3 linked regions of the Homo sapiens genome follow. The protein of the gene in region 2 purifies or fractionates together with the protein of the main gene of each other region. This does not show direct contact. Each region holds a gene or a part of one and is shown on either strand. Other genes may lie near its edges.

What was found.
Region 1: the proteins of KLHL9 (region 2) and USP25 purify together in Homo sapiens (affinity purification with mass spectrometry; 3 studies listed by BioGRID and IntAct, with this or other methods). This does not show direct contact.
Region 3: the proteins of KLHL9 (region 2) and NUDCD3 purify together in Homo sapiens (co-immunoprecipitation; 3 studies listed by BioGRID and IntAct, with this or other methods). This does not show direct contact.

The regions. Positions count from the first base shown.
Region 1 is NC_000021.9:15,724,375-15,732,981, forward strand, and holds the start of USP25 (ubiquitin carboxyl-terminal hydrolase 25), read left to right. Parts: upstream 1-5,607; 5' UTR 5,608-6,019; coding exon 6,020-6,064; exon of another isoform or gene 6,065-6,314; intron 6,315-6,628; exon of another isoform or gene 6,629-8,607. UniProt on the Homo sapiens protein: Deubiquitinating enzyme that hydrolyzes ubiquitin moieties conjugated to substrates and thus, functions in various biological processes including inflammation and immune response.
Region 2 is NC_000009.12:21,331,587-21,340,687, reverse strand, and holds the start of KLHL9 (kelch-like protein 9), read left to right. Parts: upstream 1-5,283; 5' UTR 5,284-5,828; coding exon 5,829-7,682; 3' UTR 7,683-9,101.
Region 3 is NC_000007.14:44,389,659-44,397,682, reverse strand, and holds part of NUDCD3 (nudC domain-containing protein 3), read left to right. Parts: intron 1-5,197; coding exon 5,198-5,386; intron 5,387-8,024.

The DNA of each region.
Region 1 (8,607 bases), on a different chromosome or scaffold from region 2:
TCCCCCATCTCTCATTCTCTGTGTCTTCCAAAGCACAGAATGAAGTTGTTCTCTGAAGTTTCCTTCTCTCTCTAAAGTCTGGACCCACATAAGAAGAAAAAAAAACCCTATGAACCCTTTTCTGAGTTTTCATGAACTGAATTCATATCACAGAAAGACAGGCTGAAGTTTGTCAACACACTTGAACAGACATATATCCCAAGCCATTGTCTTCTCTGTGGACCCAACAGGCTTTGTACTGGCCATTGTACATGCTCTAAGTCCACTGACTTCCTCTAAAAATCATTTTCTATCCCCTTAAAAATATCGATACTTCCTGGACTCCCTTTTCCCTAAGAGCAAGGGTATATAACTCTCTGGACCTCATATGGTTGGGAAGTAATCGCTGTGATTTTCCTCTGTGTGTAGTGATACAAATTCGTATGCCTTTTTAAAATTAATTTGATTTTTGTCAGTTGATTTTCAGCCAACCTTCAAAAGATGAAGGGGAAGGTTTCCCTTTACCCCTACAGTGGTTAAAACAAGGAATATCTATCCAAAGAATTTGTTATATAGGCAATGCAGAGCTGAAAAGCCGAACAAGGGGAGTGAGTTAAGCCAGAGTTTAGCAACATCAAAAAGGCATTACTACCCTTAATTTGGAGAGAGAAGTGAGGATGCACAGCTTCTAAATCTCAGGGACCTACCTCACCTCACTGGGGAGACCTAGAATCAGGCAAGGGCAGTCTGGTGAGATGGGAAACCATCCAAGAGATACATACAGCCCAAAGAGATGCCATCAGAGGAGAGGGAGGAGAAAGAGAAATAGCCTGGCTATACCCTTTCTCTTGCCCTCCAGTACCTTTCCTTTGCCTGTTAGCCAAATCTGTTTCAAACCCATCTGACTTACGAGCGTGAAACATGCAGGGATAGTCCTCTCTGTGATTTACAGCAGAACAATAGACGCTCAAGGAATCAATCTCGTAGCAAATAGGAACTAAGGCTTAAGTAACTTGCCCACGATCACAGAGCTAGAAGTCCCTGGGTTGTTCTTCAGGGATCATGTGCGCTGAACATGGGAGATAGGTCTTGGAAAGTGACATTAGTCACATTCTGACATGTGGTTTTCTCTGCCCATATATATCATAGGATAATTTCAGGGAAATGTGTGCCCACCAATATGGTGGGAGAGACTTTGTCTTTTGAGTATAGGTGAATGGACTAAAAAGTGATGAGAAAAGGTCTGAGGCCTCCAAGCCATTTTCAGTGTGCAAGTATAACTTCGGGCCTGTTCAAGGTAAGTGAAAGCAAGTGATGCAGGCAAGAAATAACACACTTTTGCACTGGCTCTCCGTTGATAAATTCTAGCTGTTTCTCCATAGTCCTTACTTTCTAGGTGGACCTTGCAAAGCACATTAGACTAGATTGCTTTTCAATGCACAAAACTTGTTTCCCCCAAAATGATTCTAATTGGAAGTGCCAATACTGGCAGAAAATGTGTGCAGGTACTAGCCTTTAAAGTGCTAATGCATCTCTTACCAATCTACGAAGTTACAGGATGGGGCATGAAAAAATATATTTGACGGCACAAAAGTATGAAGCATAGGATTAAGTAAAGCAGATTGAATATGACTGTTACGGGCTGAATTTTGTCTCTCTAAAATTCATAACCTCTCTAAAAAGTCCTAACCCCTAGCACTTCAGAATGTAACTGTATTTGAAAACAAAGTCTTTAAAGGGGTTATTAAGTTAAAATGATGCCATCTGGGTGCGGCTGAAATCAAGTATGATTTATGTCCTCAGCAGAAGATGAAGAGATACTGTGGGCACACACGGACCATGGAAAGAGGCAGTGAGAGGGTGGCCATCTGCAAGGCAAACAGAGAGGGTGCAGGAGAAATCAACCCTGCTGGCACCTTAATCTTGAATTCCCAGTGTCCAGAGCTGTGAAAAAATACATTTCTGTATTTTTAAGACACCCAATCTGTGGCATTTTGTTATGGCAGAACAGACAACTAATACAATACCAAAGAAGCAACATCTAGAATCCCTCAAAATGTGAGGCACTATTGAGGGCTGGAGAAACTAATAATGACACATTTTGTCATATAGAATAATATGGCTGGGCTGCCAGGACCACAAAGCTATCCACTTGGAATGAGAAGTTAGAGTTAGATGTGCACCACAAAAGCACAAATACATTTGTTTTCTCCCCTTCATGGCTGCCCACTTAATTCAATAAGCATTTTATTGTGCATGTATTAGGCAGGCAGTACTCTTGCAGGTTGTAATCTATGAACACCTGATTGCTAAATAGTACCATTATGACATCATAGAAGACTCCTCTTTAAATGATTGCTTATTGTTTTCTTTTTGCTCTTTTACATGGAGTCTTGCTCTGTCACCCTGGCTGGAGTGCAATGGCACATCTCGGCTCACTGCAACATCCGACTCCTAGGTTCAAGCAATTCTCCCTGCCTCAGGCTCCGAGTAGCTGGGATTACAGGTGCCTGCCACCACATCCGGCTAATTTTTGTATTTTTTAGTGGAGACAGTGTTTTGCCATGTTGGCCAGGCTGGGCTTGAACCCCTGACCTGAGGTGATCCGCCCACCTTGGCCTCCCAAAGTGCTGGGATTACAGAGGGGAGCCACCGTGCCCAGCCTGCTTATTGTTTTCTTATTGGTGGAAATAAAATTATCCCAGAATGCCAACACTCCTAAAGGAGGAAAATAATTCAGATCCTCATTGCAGTAGATTTAAAACCACTCTTTTGTAATGGAAATTGTCTAAATCTGCTCCATGGATTCAACAATTCTTTGCTGACATGCCTGTAATCCAGGTAGCTACTTCAGAGGCTGAGGCAGGAGGATCCCTTGAGACCAGGAGCTCAACACCAGCTAGGGGGGAAACAAAGAAAAGTCCTACAAATGTGTTTTGGCAATATGGTAAACTTTTGGTATCCGGAAATGGATTTTTAACCCCTTTCTAAAGATACCTAAGGCGGAAGAATACCAATTTTCTTAGTTGACATATAAAATACAATACTGAGTATTGCTAGAAATAACGTTTTGACCCAAAACAGAAAAATAGTCTTGCAGTTTGTCTTTGTCTATTTTATGCTGCTACAACATAATACCTATGAATGGGTAATTGATAATGATCAGAAATTTGTTGGCTCACAGTTCTGGAGGCAGGGAAGGTCAAGATGGATGGGCCGTCATTTGGTGAAGGCCTTCCTCCTGTATCATTGCATGGTGGAAGAGCTAAGAGAAGGGGAGAAAGAGAGAGAGGGAAGGAAAGGAAAAGGGAAAGAGGCAAGAAGGAGCCAAACTCGTCCTTTTATAAGGAAACTGTCCTTTTGATAGGGACTGCACATTTGTGATAGCACCATTAATTAATTCATGAGGTCAGAGCTCTCATAACTGAATCACCTCTTATTAGGGCCCACCTCCACACTGTTGCATTGGGGATTAAGTTTCCATCACACCGTTTTTGGGGGGATACATTCAAACCACAGCATTGTTACACACAAAATATTTCATATTATATGAAATATGTCACTTAACATTTTTACCTGAATGTCAACAACATAGAGTAATGTAGCAGTTTAGAAGTTATTAAATAATATCTTGAGGATATATAATTCCGACACACATGCATATTAAAGCTGACTCATACAACACAATTGTCACGGCGCAAATTTAAAAAATGAGTTAGGAAATCCCAGCGATGGGTTTTGTGTGCCAATTTATCTCAATTGCTCAAATTTCTCTAATTATTCATCCCAATTGTAAGCCTTCTAAAAAGGAATGCCTATGAGGAAACTTGAAATTTTCTTCTCAATGTTCTTCAGTACAACAGTTAAAAATATTTAAAGAAATGCTGAGTAAGTAGGAAACCCTCAGAAGTAAGCTGAAAATGAACAGTCTCAGTGGGCAAATAGGTCTACCATATAAAAGCTCTATTTGATGATTATCTATTGTAAGATCATCTTTTTTTTTCTGTATGGAAGTAACAAATTTAACTCAGAGAAAAGTTGTATTGCCAAATTCTTGAAATTAAACCTTAGTATCTGGCAACATTTTTCCTCCCATGGTACTAGATTACTAGATTTTTATGTTAAATTTAATTTTCTTGAATTCAAATGTATGAGCTTGATTTCTAAAAAACAAACAAACAAACCAAAAAACCAAAACCCTCATATGGAGAAACATGAAGTTAGCATATAAACAAGAAAAGAAGAAACTTTGATCTATAAATGAAGAAAAATGGGTTTTGATAAGCTCTCTTTGACAGGTCACCCTCCTTGGGCTTCAGAGTTATAAAAAAATCGATACGTGAGATTAGAGATGTGACAGTATTTCTAAATTTCTGTTTCCAACCGTTTCATGACTTTTCATTTCCTCTAGAAAAGACATAGGATATTAATATAATAAGATTTGCAATTTGTTAAATATCAAATGAGTCAACAAATATGAAGCTTCAAGGAAAAGGTGACAACAGGTGGTACCAGACATCTGAGCTGCAGAACAAAGATGGTTGTAAAGTGCACAGAACTGTTACAAAGCCTTAAGAGCTACTATAATCCATGATTATTAAATAACACCACATACTATTTCAATTAGCATTTGCCAAGCTTGCTTTCCTTGTCATTGGATTAAAAATTATACCCGGATTTTCAAGTGTATTCTATTTGTGACAATATGCATTGATAATTTCTCTCCTCACACTGCTGCACTCTCACCTCCGTTCCCAGATTAGCTCCTGGAACTCGAGATATTTTTGTGGCTAGAGATTGCTTTCTTAATGTTAGATTTTCCTTACAATTCCATATATAGTCAAGCATTCCATGCATGGTAGTTAATTGTTTGCTTAATTTGGCAACTGGGATATTAGAATTATGTATCATTAGGCAGTGATATTTTTGTAAGGTTGTTTGCTAGATAGATCCTATTTCATTTATATTAAGTCTTGGGAAGATAAACTTTATTTTTCCAGAGCCTAGCAGTGACTGACACATATTCGAATGAATGAAGGTAGATAGAAAATGTCTATATTCATTTACGTAATGATTAGTTAAGGAGAAAAGTACTTCCCAGCATAAAGATTTCTGGCAACCCTTTGCTTATTTGACTTTTCCCTTCAGGCAAGTTCAAGGCTTGTGAAATTCCTAGAAAGGCGAGGGGAGAGAACGCGTGACACAGAAAGGGGCCGGAGTTCGGGACCCTACGCAGTTTTGGGACGTTATGGGCATGGAGGGAAATGTTTGCTTTGGAGGCTTTGGGTAAGCTAGGGATCCGACAAGCCCTGGGCGCAGGGAGGAACGCTGCCCTCCGGCCTCCAGTCGCGCTCCCCGAAGCCCAGCGCCAGCGTCGCGCAACCTGCCGCAGGGGCGGCTCCCGGGCCAGGCAGCCAGGCGCGCCCTCGCCCCACCCGGGAACGCCAGGCCCGCGCAGGGAGGGGCGGGGCTCCATGGCGGCCCCGCCCCGCCGCCCGGAGGGTCACAATGTAGGGTTAGGGCGGCCGGCGGGCGGGGCTCTGCGGGGGAGGAGCCGCCGGGCGGGGGCGGGGATGGCGCGTGGGGGAGGGGAGGGAGGAGGACTCGCGGAGGGAGGAGGACAACGCCATTCCGGGCGGCCGCTCCCTCCGTCCCCTCTCTCCCTTCCCCAAAGCAGCCCGCGGACCGGCAGCAAAGGAACGTGCGAACGCGTGACGCCGCCCGACTGGCTCGCGCTCTCCCGTGCCCCGGCGTCCTCCGCCCGCTCATGGCCCGGGCCGCCGCGGACGAGCGGCGCTGAGGCGGGCCGCGTGGAGACGTGAGGCGGCCGCCGTGGCCCTCACAGTCGGCGTTTCGCCGCCTGCCCGCGGTGCCCGCGCACGCCGGCCGCCATCGCCTTCGCGCCTGGCTGGCGGGGGCGCTGTCCTCCCAGGCCGTCCGCGCCGCTCCCTGGAGCTCGGCGGAGCGCGGCAGCCAGGGCCGGCGGAGGCGCGAGGAGCCGGGCGCCACCGCCGCCGCCGCCGCCGCCGCCGCGGGGGCCATGACCGTGGAGCAGAACGTGCTGCAGCAGAGCGCGGCGCAGAAGGTGAGGCGAGTCCGCCAGCCGGCGGGCCCCACTTCTCCTTCCGACGGGCTGTCCTCTCCCGCTGCGGCCGGGCGCCCCGGCCTCGCCGCCGCCGCCTTCCCGGGCTTCCTCCCCGGTCACCCCCGGCCCCTGCCCATCGCCTCGGGGGCGTCGCGCCCAGAGCCCAGCTGCGTGTGGGAAGCAGAGTGTAGTTTGCGGGCTTCAATCCACTTCCTTCTGCCGATTGTTTTCCCGTAGCAGACGGTGCCAGGTATTGAGAGCGACCCTCACATTCCTACAGTGCTCTGTGTGGCATCTTAATGAAACTTTATTCTCTCCCCTTAAATGAGAAAGAATAGCTAGTTGTCATCCTTTCTGAACCGATTTTGTCTTTCAAAGGTAGTAGTGTACCAGGCCTGCTATTTTGCAAAACGGTCTCCACCAAAATCGAATTACCTGCCTCGCGGGGCAGGCGTGTTGACCAGGTGGACTCTAGAAGTAGGTGGTTTGCTTGGTTTCTTTTCCTTTTAAGGTTTCCCTTTCTTCTTCTTCTTTTCTGTTTTTTTTTTTTTTTTTTTTTTTTTCAATATAGAAACTGTCCCTAAGAGAGGAAACCTTTCTGGCCATGTTATTCCAGGAATCTTTTGTCCCCTAAGTTTGACCTTGTTCTTTCGTTCACCCTTTACTCTTGCATCAGTCACACATTCAAATGGTCACTCACTAAAGAAAACAATTAAAAAACTGTTTGTGAAACTTTATATCTTTAAAGTGAATAGAGATCATTCTGCTATTTTAGATTTTGCTTTCAGAATCTTAAGTGCACTATCATGGCTTGCACCATGTTCTGAAGAGTAGTTGGCCATGATTTAACTTCTTTTTTTAATTTTTAATTTGCGTGAAAAGCATTTTGGGCAAAAGAGTAAACCGTGCCTTAGTTGTGTTGGTATTACGGGGACAGTTAGGGTTTACTGTGATCAACCACCAGAGTTATGTTTGGTTTATCTGGGTGAGTAATGAATGCCCCACCCTGTTGTAGATTTGGTGTAGATTGCAATATTCTACCTGTGCTTGACTTTAGAATAAGACCTGTTCTAAAATGGGCTGTCTACATACAGCCTGCTAAATTTTTGCTTTGAGATTATTTTTAGAATTTTATGATACTGCTTTAAAGTAATCGAAGATACTCAAGTTTGGAAAGCAAGGATAGTGCATTGTTATTTTAGGCACGTTGGGAAAGTTGTTTTTGAGACTTGTATGTTAGTTGATATTATTGGTAAAGTTAGAAGGATATTGCACACTGCACTTTATTTACAGTGAAATAATTCAAGATTTAATAATGAGAATTTAAAAGAGTTTCCTTCCTAATCCTCCCTATTCTATTTTGAATACCTTCAAGTTCAATTTTTAAAGACTTAAGGCTTAGGAAAGAGCACATGGTCATGTGAACGCTAAGCAATATTTAATATGTATGGTACCATTTGTTTATAATTGTCTTCAGTGTTGAATATTAAAGTCTGTTTCAAAGTGAGAAATACCAATTTTTCACTTCCTAAGTTTGAACAATGGGAAGAACTTTGTAAGTTTAGGATTTTTTTATTTTCATTTGATTTTGACTAAACTGTATTAAATAACTATGCAGGCTCTATTGTATGGTTCAGAGGTTATGCATAAAATTGTAGAATCAAGAATCAAGTTAACGAAAGTGATCTTGGCTGTCGAGTCCAATTTCCTACTTTAATGAATCCCCTCCACACACAAAGGGAGTAGTAGTTAATTCAAAATATTATCATTATGATGCTACTTTTAGTATGGCTGTGTTTTAGATCATTTCATTGTTATTGGGGATTTTTTTTAGAGAAACTTTTATACTTCCATAATATTTAGATTGTTTTACAGAAGAAACACTTAAATGTGTTTGCTTTCCGTATTAATACACGATTACTTTGTTACTCATATTAGAACTATTTAAAAATATTTATATGGATACAAGTAAACCATCTACCTCGATAAGTTGACAGATTTAAATCCGTCAAGCTAGTAACCAGGAAGCGGACTTAAAGCTGGTAACTAGGAAGTGAACTTCACACTTAGAAGAAACAAAAGTGAAAGTCTGTTTTTACTCAGACACTTTATGGGTTATCTAAAAGGAGAGGTGTGTAGTGTATATTGCATAGCCAACATTTTAGCCAGTTTTCTTCTCACCTTAAAAAACTGTGTGTACATATGTGTTTTTAAATTTTAAGTATTTACTATTTAAAATTTAAGTATTTACTATTTAGCTATATTATTTTCAAGATTTTTAAAACTTTTATTTTGCAGATGGATGTAAGTTTTTTTGTTGTTTGCAGCACCACACTACACAAAACTTTCATGATTTTTTGGTTCGCCTATAGAATTCATTAGTCTTTGTCACAATGTAGTATGATGAGGCAAGAGGCTGCCTTTCCCTTTTGATGTGTTCTTTGCTTGATTGCTGGAGTTTGGCCAACCCAGGGACTTATGAGATGTAGTAAAACTGCAGAAAGCTGCTTTTCTGAGGTTTAGGTATTTCAGGTGAGGTGCAG
Region 2 (9,101 bases):
TCATGGTACTTGCCATGGTCATATTGCTATTAAATAGCAGAGCTGGAATCCAAACCAGGAACTCTGGCTCTAGAGTCATACCCTTTAGTCACTAAATTGTGCTGTCTAAAATAGCATGGCAAGCTCGATCAACAGTCTGAATCAATACAATTAGATGTGTTTAGAGAAATAACCACTAACCACCACATAGCACTTTGTAGATTGTTCTGCACATACCTTTTGACTTCCTCCTACTTACGGCTCAGACCCTGTGAGCAGGCATCTATCTCTGAGGGAAAAAGACTTGCCCAAAGGCCACAGCTAAAAAGGAGAATATGTGAGCTGAGAACAGTTTGGGGTCTATTATTTTCTTCACCATTTCACAAAGGACAGGAGAAAATAGACCAAGAGGATTTCATGAGTAATCCTTTTCTCCAGTGAGGCCAGCTAGGCACTCTGGACATGGTTGGTGCTAAACTTGTAAGAAGTCCTATTCAGGCCCGTCTCTTTACTGAAGATTTATGTGTTACTCAACCCCTCAGAATCCTTGGGGTACCTGAGTTCTTCACTGCACTTATGCAGGTGATAGGAGGTCTGTCTGTGACCCAGACAGATGCCACAGGCAGGTAAGACAATAATTGAGGAAATGAGTGAAGCACAGTGAGTAGGGCAGACGCTGTGAGTTTGGGTCTCCAACAGGGTAACTTGTGAAGAAGAGAAAGAAAGAAGAACCTACCCGATCCTGATAGCCCCCAACCTTGGGGAAACATGATATCCACTGAGTGCATGAAGTTTTCCATCAGCACACCTAGACTCAAATCCTAACTCTGCCAATCACTTGTGCACTCTACGTGGATCACCTTTTCTCTCAGCGTCCTGCTTTCTTCATTGATAAAGTAAGCTTGATAGTATTACTATTTACACTGTAACTGGTGGATTAAAACATGTAACATATTATTTATTTTATAGATGGCACATAATAATAGATTTTTTCTTTCCCTGTTCTTTCTTAACACTGATGAAAGAAATCAAAAACAATGTTTTCTTTTAATGCCTTCTTAGTATTGAGTGCTCTTGTCAATTCTGCATTCATGACAAACAACAAAGTCTAACTTAGATACATTAAACACAGAGAAAAGAACACTGTACATACAGGTAGAACCAGCTATGAATCCTATCTCTGCCCCTCACCATTCACTAAATGGATGTCTTCAAGACATCTCTTATCAATACTGATCCGCAGATCACTCCTCATATCATCTCTGCTAAGAGAGAAATTTATAAAATGTTACCAAAGTATGAGTGGGTTTCATGACTAGGCAGTAGAGAATAGGAAACCAGTGAATCAATAAACTCACAACGTGGTGGTTTGCAGACATTCTCTGCATGGCAGCTAAATACACTTCCCTAGAAGCATCCCCATCTGGTCAGAGATGGCCTTTACTACGATGGCCATCCTTGTCCAGCCTTACTTAGGTTTCAGTATTTTTGCACAATTAGCATCCCTGGTGTACGAAGAATGTGATAAATGAGCTCTCTGAGCAGTCATCTACACTCTCTCTGAAGAGTATTTGGATTTTATTTATCCACATTAATAAAGAGAGCCCATTTGTTTGAAAGAAAGAAGTAGGATTTCAAACGCATTTTCCATAAGTTTTAGATGTTCTCAATTGTCTGGCAATAGGAGAAATGTAAAGGAAAATAACAGTTATATGTAAACAAAATCGAGAAAGTTGCATCATAGGGAATATAGCTAACATCTACATAAAGGGTTTATATATACTTTTAAGAGGGGCGTATAAAAGCATAATTCATAAGAACAATAAAAACTACAATTAATGCCATAAAATGAAATCTAAATAGAATTAAGAACAGCAAGTGAAGCAAATGGAAAGGCATTATAGCCCACTAGTACTCAAAAACTATTAAACAATTATTCTTGAAATTTTAGATTATTAAATAAGCAGTAAGACAATATAGCCTATGAAATAAAGTATTAATTTTATATGCTTTGTGCCATTATATCCATTCCCTGAAATCAATCCTAAATAAAAGTTTGTAAAAAGGTTACAAAATTATATCCGATAATACAAACACACATTTTTCTCCAGGTACTACCTTCTTGCTCTTCTTCCACTCACAGATAAACTTCTAAAAGAAGTTTCCATCCACTGTGTCTCCAACCTCTCCTGCTATTTACTCTAGTCAATATATTCCAATCTGGATTTTGCCAAATTAATTCTGGCAAACCAGTCCTTTCTTTTCCTAAATGTAAAACGTCATGTTTTAAACACATTTCTTCCCTTAAACACCCTCTTATCACAATTTTCTCCTGGTTGTCCTCCTATTTTGCTCCTGGATGTCCTCCTATCATTTCATTCACATGCCCTTTTCAGGTTCCTCACTCTGTTCACTACATTAAGATGTAAAGGTCCTCAAGATCCAGGTTTTGGTCTTCTGATTCACTACTCAATTTCTACCAGACCTCATCCATCCTTGGGCCTTCAGGAAAAAGGTATAGCCCAGCTCCCAAATGAACATCTCTAGCCATGCACTCTAAATCCCAGAACTGTGTATCCAATTTTCAAGGCTTAAAGTCTTCCAGTTTCTGATGACAAAAACCACTTTTCTTTTGCCTATGGTTTGAGTTTATGATAGAGTTGAAATTAATTAATTGGTTAATAGTTTTATTTCTCCCTCAGCAAAAAGTTTCAAGAGGGCTGAAGCTGTGTTTCCTTTATTCACTTTTCTATCCTGAAAAGTCACATATCAAGTGTTTCATACAGTGTGAATGGAATGAATGAACTGAACTTCACTTGAGGTTGCAAAACCAACCTTGGCATTGATTTATTGAGTAAGGCCAGGTATGGTGGCTCATGCCAGTAATCCCAGCAGTGTGGGAGGCTGAGGTGGGAGGATTGTTGAGGCTAGGAGTTTGAGGCTGTAGTGAGCTATGAACCTGCCACTGCACTCCAGCTTAGTGACAGAGCAAGACCTTGTGTTTGTTTTTTTTAAATAAACAAATGCAAAATGATCTGAAAGTAAAACTCGAAATAATAAAGAGAATAATTTTCAAAATATAAAGTGAGGGGCCAGGCATGGTGGCTCACGCCTGTAATCCCAGCACTTTGGGAGGCTGAGGCAGGCGGATCACAAGGTCAGGAGTTTGAGAGCAGACTGGCCAGCATGGTGAAACTCTATCTCTACTAAAAATACAAAAAATTAGCTGGGCATGGTGGCGCGCACCTGTAGTCCCAGCTACTCGGGACGCTAAGGCAGGAGAATTGCTTGACCCTGGGAGGCGGAGGTTGCAGTGAGCCGAGATCGCACCACTGTACTCCAGCCTGGGTGACAGAGCGAGACTCCGTCAAAACAAAACAAAACAAAACAAACAAACAAAATATACATAAAGTGAACACTTTTTAATGTAATTAGCACAGTGTTAAAAGTGAACATTTCATACAAGCAAAAATACTGAATACAATAAATGTAGTAGAATCAATAATTAAGTACATGGGTAAATTAATAATATCATCCATGGTGAGCTAATGCCCCTAAGAACTGGATGCTTTATCATACAGTTGCTTGACATTACCAACAAGTATTGTGACAAATTTGATTCAATCATTTCATTATGCAGGCAGAAAAGATAGTCTTTTAAAATAACTAAACATATGGGAATATAATGAAGAGTGTCTATAGTAATCATTTCATGAAGACACAAGTCTGTTCCTAAGCTATTAATCTTACTTGCAAGTTTGATGAAAAAAAGAAGGATCTCATGATTTCTTGCTCCAACTTCCCATGTACAGAGGCTCTCTTCTTTCTTTTCCAGATAGAGACTGATTCCTTGGAAGTAGCTCTTCACAGCATTAGGGAGTTGTCATGGCCTGAGAGAGCCCTTCCACCCCTAACTCATTCAACAAGCAGGGCTCCAGGACTTCCCAATGCTGATAAAAATTCAGTGAATAATTTCTCCAGGCCAGTTTCATTCCAACCAACCTCTTGTGTTGAATAAGGTGACAATCTGCTGGAGCACCTTGTGGAGGACAGTGGTAGTCTAAGCCTTCTGAATTTTGCTGCCATCCCTTGGAAACAATAGAAAACATTCAAAACAGATGAACTGCCCATCAACAGGGCACTGGTTAAATAACTTATGATGTAACAACTCAGAAGGCAACAACAGAATTGTTTAAAAATATAAATAAGCCCTCTACACTAATTCAGGAAGATCTTGAAGTGAAAAAAAAAGATGCAGAACAGTGTACATGGTATGCTATCTTTTACATAAAAACGAGGCGAGTGTAAGAAAAACATGACTACATTCTTACTTTGCATATGCATAAAGAACTAGAAGGATTTAAAAGACAGAAACTTCAAAATTTGGAAAATGGAAGAAATTGTGTCAAAGTATACATTTATTTGTATGTCAAAATTTAAATTTACCACTAATTAAAGAAATGCAAGTTAATAAAATACTCACAAAGGGAAAAGTCAGAAGAAGGGAAAGACACAAACATTGTTGGTGATAATATTTTGGAAATATTGTCTTGGATCAGTATTTTACTAAATATTATCCATAACAGGGCTAAAATTTTGCTACCAGATTGTATAAGTTTACTACCGAGTCTATAAAACAATGGAGGATAAGAAGGTACACATTCAGGAACAAACCAATGGGCAAAGGAAACTATAGTATGTATAGTTATTGGAAAATTATGTAGCCATTTTTAAAATTGTGGAAAACAAAGGCATTTCAAGCCAAAAATTTAGAATATATCATTTACATAATAAAGTAACAATCTAGTAAAGACAAATATTTTGCGTTTGAAATTGTAACAAATTTGAAAATATGAACCAAAATTGTAACTGAAGTATCTACTACATAATGTGGGATAACAATTATTGTTTTGTAGAGGAAAAAAAAAATTAAGCATCCAGGTTTCCTCTCAATTTATACAAATGCCGCATTTCACTGTTATTCAAAAAAACAGAAGCTAGGAAGCGTAAAGCTTTGAAAAATTATGCATTTGGGGAACGTAAGAGCTCAGATATGCGAAAAACTTATATCAAACGTGCAGCATAACACACTTGCTTGCACACATTCTGTCCTATTTGGTCCCACATACAAGGCAGCTCTAAGAGGCCGGGCTGGCGCCCACCCCACACAGCTCCGCTTCCCCAACCCTCGCCCTCCCGCCTCCCGGGTACTTCCTCCCCCTTCCCCACCCCCACCCTCCCGCTGACTGACGAGGTCTGGAGGCCGCGCAGCCGCAGTAGCCGCTAAGGCCGCTCCCACCCCGTGGTATCCTGGGACTAGGCTTTTCCGGAAGGAGCGGCTCGGTGTTGGGGCTAGGCCGGTATTCTAGGCCCAAGCCCAGGCCCAGGCCTGTGTTCCCGGCCCTTGCTCAAAGACAGGCCGGTGGCCGCTGCGACACTCTAGGTACAGCGGAGGGCGCAGCGGGCCGTTCGCTGAGGTGTCCGGACCCGCCGCCGAGCGGGCCGTGGAGCCACAGTACGTGGCGGCGCCTCTTCCTTGCCCGAAGCGGAACTGCTGAAGGAGCGGCAGCGCAGGCCGGACGAGGTGAACCAGGTCATTTAACCGCCTTCAGGTGATGAATCATCTGTCTAATAATCAGATTTGAGGTCCACAGCCCTTTGTGGTCCTGCTACAGGGTGATTTTCAGTGGATGACTGACTGGCGTGGCCCGAGGGGTGCCGCAGTGACTGCCTTCCCTTGATAAGGAAACGAGCTTTCTGTTCTTTCTGGACACCTCGTTACCTGTAAAACATTCCGGTTATAACTTCTTTATCCGGCTTGCATCTCTGTGCAAGAGGAAAGCTTTCACATGAAAGTGTCCCTTGGTAACGGCGAAATGGGCGTCTCTGCCCATTTGCAGCCTTGTAAGGCAGGAACCACACGCTTTTTTACCAGCAATACTCACAGTTCGGTGGTATTGCAAGGCTTTGATCAGCTTAGAATAGAAGGATTGCTTTGTGATGTGACCCTGGTACCAGGTGATGGAGATGAAATCTTCCCTGTTCACAGAGCTATGATGGCGTCTGCTAGTGATTATTTCAAAGCCATGTTCACAGGTGGAATGAAAGAACAAGATTTGATGTGCATTAAGCTTCATGGGGTGAACAAGGTTGGTCTGAAGAAAATCATTGATTTTATTTATACTGCAAAACTTTCTCTTAATATGGACAATCTTCAGGACACACTTGAAGCTGCTAGCTTTTTACAAATATTACCCGTTTTGGATTTCTGTAAAGTATTTCTTATATCAGGAGTCTCTTTGGATAACTGTGTTGAGGTTGGACGAATTGCTAACACCTACAATCTTATAGAAGTGGATAAATATGTTAATAATTTCATCCTGAAGAACTTTCCTGCTTTATTGAGTACTGGGGAGTTTCTAAAACTCCCTTTTGAACGACTTGCATTTGTGCTTTCCAGTAATAGTCTTAAGCACTGTACCGAACTTGAACTCTTTAAGGCAGCCTGTCGCTGGCTAAGGTTGGAAGACCCTCGGATGGATTATGCTGCAAAGTTAATGAAGAATATTCGATTTCCACTGATGACACCACAGGATCTCATCAATTACGTGCAGACAGTAGATTTCATGAGAACAGACAATACCTGCGTGAATTTGCTTTTGGAAGCTAGCAATTACCAAATGATGCCATATATGCAGCCAGTGATGCAGTCAGATAGAACTGCCATTCGATCTGACTCCACTCACTTGGTTACATTAGGAGGAGTTTTGAGGCAGCAGCTGGTTGTCAGTAAAGAATTACGGATGTATGATGAAAGGGCACAAGAATGGAGATCTTTAGCCCCAATGGATGCTCCCCGTTACCAGCATGGTATTGCTGTCATTGGAAACTTTCTTTATGTAGTTGGTGGTCAGAGTAATTATGATACAAAAGGAAAAACTGCTGTTGATACAGTTTTCAGATTTGATCCTCGGTATAATAAATGGATGCAGGTTGCATCATTAAATGAAAAGCGCACATTCTTTCACTTGAGTGCCCTCAAAGGACATTTGTATGCAGTTGGTGGGCGCAGTGCAGCTGGTGAACTGGCCACAGTAGAATGTTACAACCCAAGAATGAATGAGTGGAGCTATGTTGCAAAAATGAGTGAACCCCACTATGGTCATGCTGGAACAGTATATGGAGGCTTAATGTATATTTCAGGAGGAATTACCCATGACACTTTCCAAAATGAGCTCATGTGTTTTGACCCAGATACAGATAAATGGATGCAAAAGGCTCCAATGACTACAGTCAGAGGTCTGCATTGCATGTGTACAGTTGGAGATAAGCTCTATGTCATTGGTGGCAATCACTTCAGAGGAACAAGTGATTATGATGATGTTCTAAGCTGTGAATACTATTCACCAACCCTTGACCAGTGGACCCCAATTGCCGCCATGTTAAGAGGCCAAAGTGATGTTGGAGTTGCCGTCTTTGAAAATAAAATCTATGTTGTTGGTGGATATTCTTGGAATAATCGTTGTATGGTAGAAATTGTCCAGAAATATGACCCAGAAAAAGATGAGTGGCATAAAGTTTTTGATCTTCCAGAGTCACTTGGTGGCATTCGAGCCTGTACACTCACAGTTTTTCCACCTGAAGAAAACCCTGGGTCACCTTCTAGAGAATCACCTCTTTCAGCACCTTCAGATCATTCTTAGGTCTAAGGTGTAACACCTTTGCAGTACGTCATGGGTGATCTAATACTTCCCCTTCAGTTGTATCTTCTTACAGTGATTGGTACAGTTATTAGATATAAAGGTAACTGATGTTATTCGTCTTGTATGGCTTTTAGTATGTTTATCAAGTGGCTAACAAATGCATTCTGAAAATGTATTTAACATAGCTGTTTTAACAAATGAAAAAAAGACGTAGAAAAATGTTTAGATGTCTTTTTGTGATGTTATATAAAATTGTAGATGACTGTGGTAAATGTGTAATTATGTCCATTATGCTTCAAAGTTGAGTTTTCATCTTTGACTCCAAAATGTCAGAGGGAGGCCGCTCTAAACTAAAAATAACGAAAGGTTGCCAAGTATTAATACTAGTTACCTCCCTCTTTTCGTAGTTTTTGTCATGTCTGTCAACTTACTCGATTGTGTGGTTGCATTCAGAATATTTGAAGTTTCTTACGTAGACAGAAATAATAAAAATATTAACTAGGAAAAAACAGTATAGCACCAAGCCAGTATTTGGTATCTCTCTCTAGAGCGAGCAAGAGAGGGAGAGAGGAGGAAAAAATACACATAATACAAACATACATGCATGCACACATACATACATATGTATACACACACATAATTTGAAAACTGATTGGCACTTCAACGATGCTGAAATTGTTTTTAAATTGAAGTTTCTTTCTTCCACAAAGCAGCCGTTTCTATTCAAATGGAAATTCAGTACCAGAGAATAAATGTCTATGTAGTCATACTGAATTTAGATAGATAAGGGCTACAGCATACTAAATCGACAACCAAATTTGTCATGTGACTAAACCGTTACTTCAGATGAAGCTTACATTACTGTTTTCTGCTTGTGTATTTTCTGTAGAGTACTTTTACACAGATTGGTAAAGTTCAGGTTTCAGAGAACTGCTTTTGTGCAGAAAATTTAGGTTCTTTTTTCCACCTTTTTGGTCAGTAAAACTTAATGAAAAAAGCAAAGAAAAAAATATTCTGAACAAAGCTATAGGGTTTTAAGTTCAGCCTCCCAACTTAGTCATCCTAACATGATTATTTTGTGATTTGGGGTGCTTGCCCTGGTGCTGTTCCAGTCCATGTGCATCCTGAGCTGTGTGATCTGCCTCGAGGCTATGATCTGAGCAAGCAGGAGATAACATTTTCTTCTGCATCAAGTGAGGAAAAATGTGCTTTTGGCCATGTCTCAAAGACAGGACCAACTTCAGATTCCCAAAGAAGCCAGCTACAGAGCCTCTGGAACACTATGGTCTTACAAGCAGTACTAAAATCAACCCTCAGCCTCTTCAATGCCAAAGGTATCCCTATTGGTTGAGAACCACATGGTAATTTTTAATGGGACTTTTATCAGCAAATGGAGTTACAGGAATTCTCTGTAATGAG
Region 3 (8,024 bases), on a different chromosome or scaffold from region 2:
CTAAACACTTGTATGGGTGTCTTTGTACTTATTCTAGTAACTTTAAGCTTAAAATTCTTTACAAATAAAATGTTAAAAAAAATGAGAAGGCTAATAAGCACATGAGAAGCTTAACGTCATGATTCATTAGGGGAATGCAAGGCAAAACCATGATGAGATGCCCCTAGACACCTCTTAGAAGAGCTGCTAAGAAGGCAGACAGCACCAAGCGCTAAATGAGATGGGGCACCTGGTGCTCTTCTGTGCTACTGGTAGGGGTGCAGCAGAGTGGTCAGTCTGGACAGTAGCTGACATCACGTGACCCAACACACGCATTCCTGGCTACTTACCAAGGAGAATAGAAAGCAGGCAGATCTCTACAGCAGCTCTCTACCTGATTGCAAAACAATGGAAATGCCCACATGTCCACAAACAAGTGTGTGGTCTGCCTGTGCCATGAAGCACAGTGTGGCTGAGCGTCAAGAGTCCCCACACTCAAAGGAGGCAGCAGATACAGGGCTGCACACTGTGTGATTCCACACATGTGACATTCTGGACACGGACATGCTGGATGGCAAAACGAGCATCGGGCTGAGAGGACTGCTGAGAAGGGGAACGGGGCTGCTGGGATGTGGGTTGATTGTAGCAGTAGCTCATGGAGATGTGACCTCAAAAGAGTGATTTTTACTATGTGCATACTATACCTCCACAAACTTGACTTTAAAAAAATAAAATATTCACAGAAAAAAACAAAAACAAATGTAAAACCATCAGACTACTTTATCAGAGGTGTTATTTTTAGATAGAGGTCTTTGAACTCCATCCTAGGAACATTGTACCCATGTCCTCCCAGAACTGCATCTTGCACTGGGTGTCGGAAGACAGCCCTGCAAGACCTGTATGCTCTGTACCATTCAGTGGTTTTTAAGGTTAACTACCAGAAGTCATATCTGAGGCCTCCCAGAAGCATTACTCTAAGGAAAGTAGTTAAATGTGGACAGTGACAGCAGAAACATTTACACATTAAACCAGTTTATAGAACATGAGAATGTTCAGAGCATAAAGAAGCTTGTCAGCTCAATGACTTACGAGGCGTGGGCCATTAAAAAAAAAGGTCTGGAGTTTGGGAAGGAGAAAGGAATGGGGATCTGCAGCTCAGAGTGAGAGATGGAATTCTGTAAAGGAACAGTGTGGAGAGGGACTCCAGGCAAGTCAATAACGATGTTAGAATGCCCTTGTTTAGAATAATTATCATGCTAATAATATTGTTCATATTGTTTTTACTAATATGCTCATCCTTAAAAATAGAAGATATTCTAAGGGTACTAAATAAATAAATAATTAAAATTTTGCAACTGAGACCTTCCTCTTCCAGAGCCTTTACAAGAACCTTTATAGACAACACCTCAGGTCCTGTTTGCTGCCCCAGCATGGAGGGCAGCCCACTTGGTTACAGTGATGACAGATGGAAACTTGACTGGAGCAGGTCTGGAAGGCAGAGGAGGCAGGCCTGTGTGTATATGGTCAGGACAAAGGACCAGTGGTGCTAGCCACACCTGTGGGATGGCTGTAATTAAACACACACACACACACACACACACACACACACACACACAACAGAAGATAACAAGTGTTGGTGAGGGTATGGAGAAACTGGAGCCATTGTATGCCGCTGGTGGGAAGGTAAAGTGGTGCAGCTGCTTTCGAAAATAGTATGGTAGTTCCTCAAAAAGTTAACTGTAGAATTACCATATGACCCAGCACTTCTGGGTAAATATACAGAAGAATTGAAAACAGGGACTCAAACAGATGTATGTACATCAATGTTCATAGCAGCATTATTCACAACAGCCAAAAAGTGGGGGCACCTGAAATGTCCATCAGTTGATGAAACAAAATGTGGTTTATCCATACAGTGGAATATTATTCAACCTTAAAAAGGAATGGAGTTCTGATTCATGCTACAACATAGATGAACATTGAGGAGGACATTATGCCAAGTGAAATAAGCCAGACAAAAACAAACAGATAACTGTATTATTCCATTTGTGTGAAATGTCCAGAACCGGCAAATCTGTAGAGGCAGAATCATTAGTAGTTGCCAGTGGCTTGGTGGGGTTGAGGGAACAATTTAGAGGAAGGGTTAGAGCAAATGGGGAGTGACTGATAATTGGCACAGGGCTTCTTTGTGAGGTAATGAAAGTGTTTTGAAACTAGATAAAGGTGATGGTTGTGCACCATTGTGGATATACTACATGCCATTGGTTCACTTTTGAATGGTAAGTTTTGTGTTAAGTGGATTTTGCCTCCATTAGAAATTGTTCAATATAAAGTCGGCTCACATCTCCTCATAAAATACCACACTGATGCACATGCGTGACGTCTGTGAGTGAGGATGGCCCCCTTGGAGAGCTGCACTGCCCAGCACAGTAGCTGCTAGCCACATGTGGCAGCTGAGTAAACACTTGACAGGTGGCTCACGTGACTGGAGAACTGAATTATTTTATTTTAATTAACTTAAATTTAAAACCTACTTGATTTAGTTACTGGAAAACCTTGAATATTTTTGAAACAACTTGGGCATGTGAATATACCCTTTCAATTGTAAATATTATGAAATCTGAACACAGATGAAGTATTTCTGATGAAAAAGTGCAGTGCTCATCTTAATTTTTGTTGGGTTCAAGTGTACTTCTGTGTCCAAAGTACACTTGTGGACACAGAAGATTTGGGGATGTTCCCCTCCTTCCTGTTGGGCAGGTGGCTCATTGTCTTCAGGTCCATCTCCCACTGTGCCCAGGAGCCCTCCACTCTGGGTGTGTGTTTGGACCTGGCCAGTGAAACCCTGTGTTGGGGTCTGTGGAGTGCCAAAAGGCCTGAGAGCACCAGCACCGTCCCCTGGATGGTATGTAGGCCGACCCCCTGCCCACATGGTGCTGATGGTGGGCTGTCAGCCCCAGTGTAGCTCTGCTTTGCCTCTTCATGCTGGGCAATCTGGAAAAGGCCCTTACTTCCAAGGGTTTGTCCTCATTTTTAAATACAAAAAATGGTATGTATGGTAAATGGTAATGGTATGTGTTTTACAGGACTTGTGAACGCTAATAAAATAAGTTACATGGATCACAGTAATAACTACTGGTGAAGATAAAAAATTCGTAAAGGATCTCTTCTTTCCAGAGATTTACAGTTCTGTGAGTTCCTCTGAAGTCTTCCCTGGAATAGAGAAAACAATGCATTTCCCTCTTGGAAGGTTTTCATTGCATCAGCTTGGTAAAGACGAGGTAGAGTTTGTAGTGTTGGGGTCTCTGAGGGTGAGTCAGGTCCCCGTCACACAAACTGTAAAGTCAACGACAAACCAGCTTAGCAGAGTATCTGGAAATGGAAGATTCATCCCAAATTTAAATTGCACACTGGCAGAGCAGCGTCATTTACTGGGTAGAGCTGGCGTGTAGGGGAGCCACCCACTCCCCCTGTTCACCACTCCCCCTATCTGCATTCGGAATGTCAGACAAGATTTCTGGGATGCTGGCTTCAGATCATGATTGCAGGTTTTTGTCTTGCTCTTCCCAGTTCTGGAAAATCTCCACTGTGTGCTCTCCCGCACCACATCGGTGCCCACCCTCTTCATTAGTAGAACACATTCTCGGACTTGATCCCTGGGCTCTGCAGAGTCTGGTGCTGAGTACCTTCTTTGGTGTGGGTAGGTTTTGGCAGCAGGAGCTTGGAGGTGGGAAGGTGGAAGGTGCAGTGTTAGGACACTGCTCTCTCAAGCCCGTGTATACTGGTGAGTCTCCAGTGCTCCCTCTTGGGGGGACGTGGTGTCCTGTGGACTCACTGTGACCTCTTGAGTGTCACAGTTACCCTGAGTGTGGCTTGGTAGGTTTTGCCCACCTGGTCAGTAAGTGTCCTGGTGGCTGCCACCTCCATGGATGAGAGCTGCTCTCACTTGCGGGCCCTTTGCTACCTTTTCTCCCTTTCTGTGAGCACCTAGTGGTTTAATCCCATCAGAGAGTCCCATCACACTTGGGCATGTGAATGTACCTCTTTCAATTGTAAATATTATGAAATCTAAACACAGATCAAGTATTTCTGTTGAAAAAGTGCAGTGCTCATCTAGGGCAAAGTAGACAAACCCACTCTGTTGCTTCTTGGCCACTCTGGTAAGAATTTTGAGCCCAGCCACTGACCACAGCAGATGCAGCCAGTTTTCTTGTTTTCTGTGTCTGTATGACCACTGATAACAGGGCATGGTGTGGCCAGGGCCCTCCTCTGTGTCCCTGGGACAGGCCAAGCAGCCAGGGTCACCTAGGTACATACAGCACCCCTCACGTTTGCTCTCATACTGCAGTTCCAGTTGTCTTTTAAGTTTTTATGGTAATGACATGAGTCTCACAGACCCCAACACTGAGGGCTGGATCTTAAATGCTGGGTGCTGCTTCCTTTGACCAAGGGATGTCTGTGCCATCCCCACAGAGGTGCCCAAGGAGGCCTCTTTTGGGGTTGTTTCTTGATGGTCGTTTCTCCTTCCCAAGCCATCAGAGAACTTTAGGGAATGGGGCTGGAGGACCCCCTCATGCAGCAAGCTTGGCCCCAGTGAGGAAGAAGTGGGGACAGGGCATGGTGCCCTGTCATGGGGTGAGGACTCCCCAGGAGATTCTGTCATGCATTAGGCTGAGCCCTAAGTCTCATAGGTCCCAGCTTACCCCTAAGATAGCAGAATGTTGGATGTTGCTCTTGGAAGCAAGAGAGATCACTGGAGAGGTAGTTGGTTGATAAGAGCTAAGCAGAGCCTTCCATGGCAAGCATGGGGGCAGGCTGGGTTGGCCCAGGACAGGTCCTGGTGTGGGGGGGTGTCATGGGTCTTGGAAAATAGCCTTTCTTCATGAGAGTGGGCAAGGTGTGCACATGGAACAGGCACTGTCCTGAGTATCCAGGACCTGCTGAAGAAGGATAAAGGCATCTTCCAGAATGTCAGTCCCCTCAGGTATGTGCCTCCTAGCTCTTCCCTGGGATATGTTAGCACAGGCAGCAAATGCATTCCCAGGCACAGAGGGTCCTGCCTTGGGTTCTGGCACCCCCTCTTGTCTGTCACCTCCCTTTGTGTAGTTGGTCCTGAGCTTATCCTGGACACCCATCCCTCAGTGGGCTCTGCTCTGTCCCCAGCCCTGGACACCTGTCTCAGGTCTCTGACTCAGGTCTCTGTCCTGCTTGTCCCCAGGTGAACCTGAGCAAGGTGGGCGAGTATTGGTGGAACGCCATCCTGGAGGGAGAAGAGCCCATCGACATTGACAAGATCAACAAGGAGCGCTCCATGGCCACCGTGGATGAGGAGGAACAGGCGGTGTTGGACAGGCTTACCTTTGACTACCACCAGAAGCTGCAGGGCAAGCCACAGAGCCATGAGCTGGTACGAGCATGGCAGTCCTGGAGAGTCCACCCTTTAGGCCCTTGTGCTGGTGACAAGGCCGATAGTGGCAGAGGGGTTGGTGATGACGGTGGGGAAGAAGGTTGTGTGGACCAGCTTCCTGCCATGTCCTAGCCTAGCAAGGAACCTGTCTTACCTGCTCTTGTCCCCAATCACTGCCTCACAGGTGCACTCTGGTCTTTCAGCTGTGTTCTCATACCTGGGCTGAGAGCCCAGTTAACAGGACCTCGAAGGGTGTCATGAGATCTGCCCTTCCTGCACCAGAGCCTGGTAACATCAAGTGTGTTGATGGCTTTTGTTTGTGCCTCATCTGCACATATCTTCCCATGAAGAGTCGCTTGGTGGGACCTTTGGTAGAGGAGGGGAGGGAGCCAGATTGCAGAGCCAGTTTCTGGATGTTGGAGGCCAGCATGTGAAGACTCTGTGATGTCAGCAGTGGGTTAGGGAGGAGGAAGAGAAAGGTTCCTGTCTGACCAGTGTAGTGCCCAGTGTAGAGTTTGCTCATGGCCAAAGAGAATGATTAATTAGATGTATACATTCTTTCTTCCTATTTTAATAACTCCAAGAGTAGCTATTTAGGGAAAAAAGGGTTGCTTTCCTCAGATTATTTTTAACTTCCCGTGTCCCATATACCCAGCACGTGGGTTTGGGCCGCAGTACAGCAGGGCACGCGGACGCAGTGCAGCCTTGAGTCAGTGGGGAGGGGTCATCTGCTGGGCACAGTCTCCTTATTTTTGTTCTGTAAACACGGACCGCCTCCTCCCCCTGAAGATCGCTGATCGATATTTTCTTCTCATTTTGTCTCTTGGAGGAACCTTACCTTGTGGTGTATCTGGATTGTCTTAGTCTTACCTTCCGGTACAGCACGTATTAATACATCGTAGGTGGTTCTGCAAGCCCTGTTGCTGTGTCTCGTCCGTTCTTGCCTATTTTCACAGACAGGTGCATCCTGCTCTTATGAGGTGAAGGAGCCTGCGGAGAGGAGTGTCAACATGTTCTCCTCACCTGGCCCTGCCACACCAGGGGCATGTCCTGAGCACTTAGTACACACAGTTAAGGTGGGGTTGACTGGCTGCACAGTACCCCTGAAAATACAGTTTGTTTGTTTTTTGTTTTTGTTTTTGTTTTTTTCCCCCCACAATAGAGAGATTGAATTTCTGAGGTTGTGACTCAGTAGCTTAGGCAGCAGGGATGGGGTTTGACCTCTGATTTGATTTCACACCTGTCTGTCCTCACAGCCCTGTCCACCCTGGCCCTTGTCTCTATGGAAGAGAATGTTCCTCTAGGTTTGGCCCCCTTTTCCACCCGGGGCATGGCAAGCTTAAAGGACATCTTTGCTTGGCCTACGTCCATGCAGAGTTTGAAGCCTCAGGTAGTATTGCAGCACCTGCTCAGCTGAGCTCAGCTCAGGTGCTTAGACAGCCAGACCTGCCTGGTTATGGCTCATTCCAGTTATGCTGCATTTGCCTGTGGCCACTAGATGAAAGGCCAGCCTTTGAACCTTTGCCCTGTGGGTAGGGCTTCTCATGGTAGTGTTTGGGGATGGTGTATGTGAGGGTCTGCCCACTCTGTGCCCATATTCAGCATTGGGTCCACAAAAGGACTGAGATGTATTCATGAGTTGACCTTCGGGAGAAAGAGTCTGTTTTGACTGGAGAACATGAACCCAGATGCCTTTTGTTCCAGAAAGATAAGAAGGCAGTCTTACCATGTACCCCTTAGAAGTGTCTTTTTGTGCCACAGGATGGAGGGACTAAGGTCAGGTGGTTTCTCACATCTTCCCCAGACACTGACACTGAGCCTTTGTTACAGAGAGATGATAAAAATTATTGTAGTTTGAATGGTATTTGTGCGTTTGTCAAAGCCTTGATGAAGTTTTTGTAGACTTTATTTTATTTTATTTTTTAAATTTTTTGAGACAGAGCCTCGCTCTGTCACCCAGGCTGGAATGCAGTGGTGTGATCTCAGCTCACTGATACCTCCGCCTCCCAGGTTCAAGCGGTTCTCCTGCCTCAGCCTCCTGAGTAGCTGGGACTACAGGCGCACACCACCACGCCCAGCTAATTTTGTATTTTTAGTAGAGACGGGATTTCACCATGTTGGCCAGGCTGGTCTCGAACTCCTGACCTCAGATGATCCACCTGCTTTAGCCTCCCAAAGTGCTGGTATTACAGACGTGAGCCACCACGCCTGGCCAGTTTTCTGTAGACTTTAGCTGTTGAGGCATGAGAGAAGCTAGGATGCTCTGGCTGTTTTTATCTGTGAGCCCTCATGTTTCCTGTGATTGTATCTCTTACAGAACTTTATATTCAAAAACAAAATAGCAGGAATACCTGCTCATCATTGGAGTTGCCAGTAGTGCCAAAGACACGCATGGAGGTGTCAGGGGCTCCACCAGCCTTTTCTTCTCTACATCCTTGCCCCTCCCCTTCCCTCCTTTCTTTCTGTTTCCCTTTTCTTTCCCTTACATCCTCCCCTCTCCTTGACCTTCCTCTCAGTCTCTTTCCCCCATCCTTTATGTTCTGTGCCAACACCTTGTAACATTGCATAGTCTCACCCCTCTATTGGGGCACGTCGGTGAGGAAGACAGACACAGATCTGCCTTTGTGGTGCTAGGATT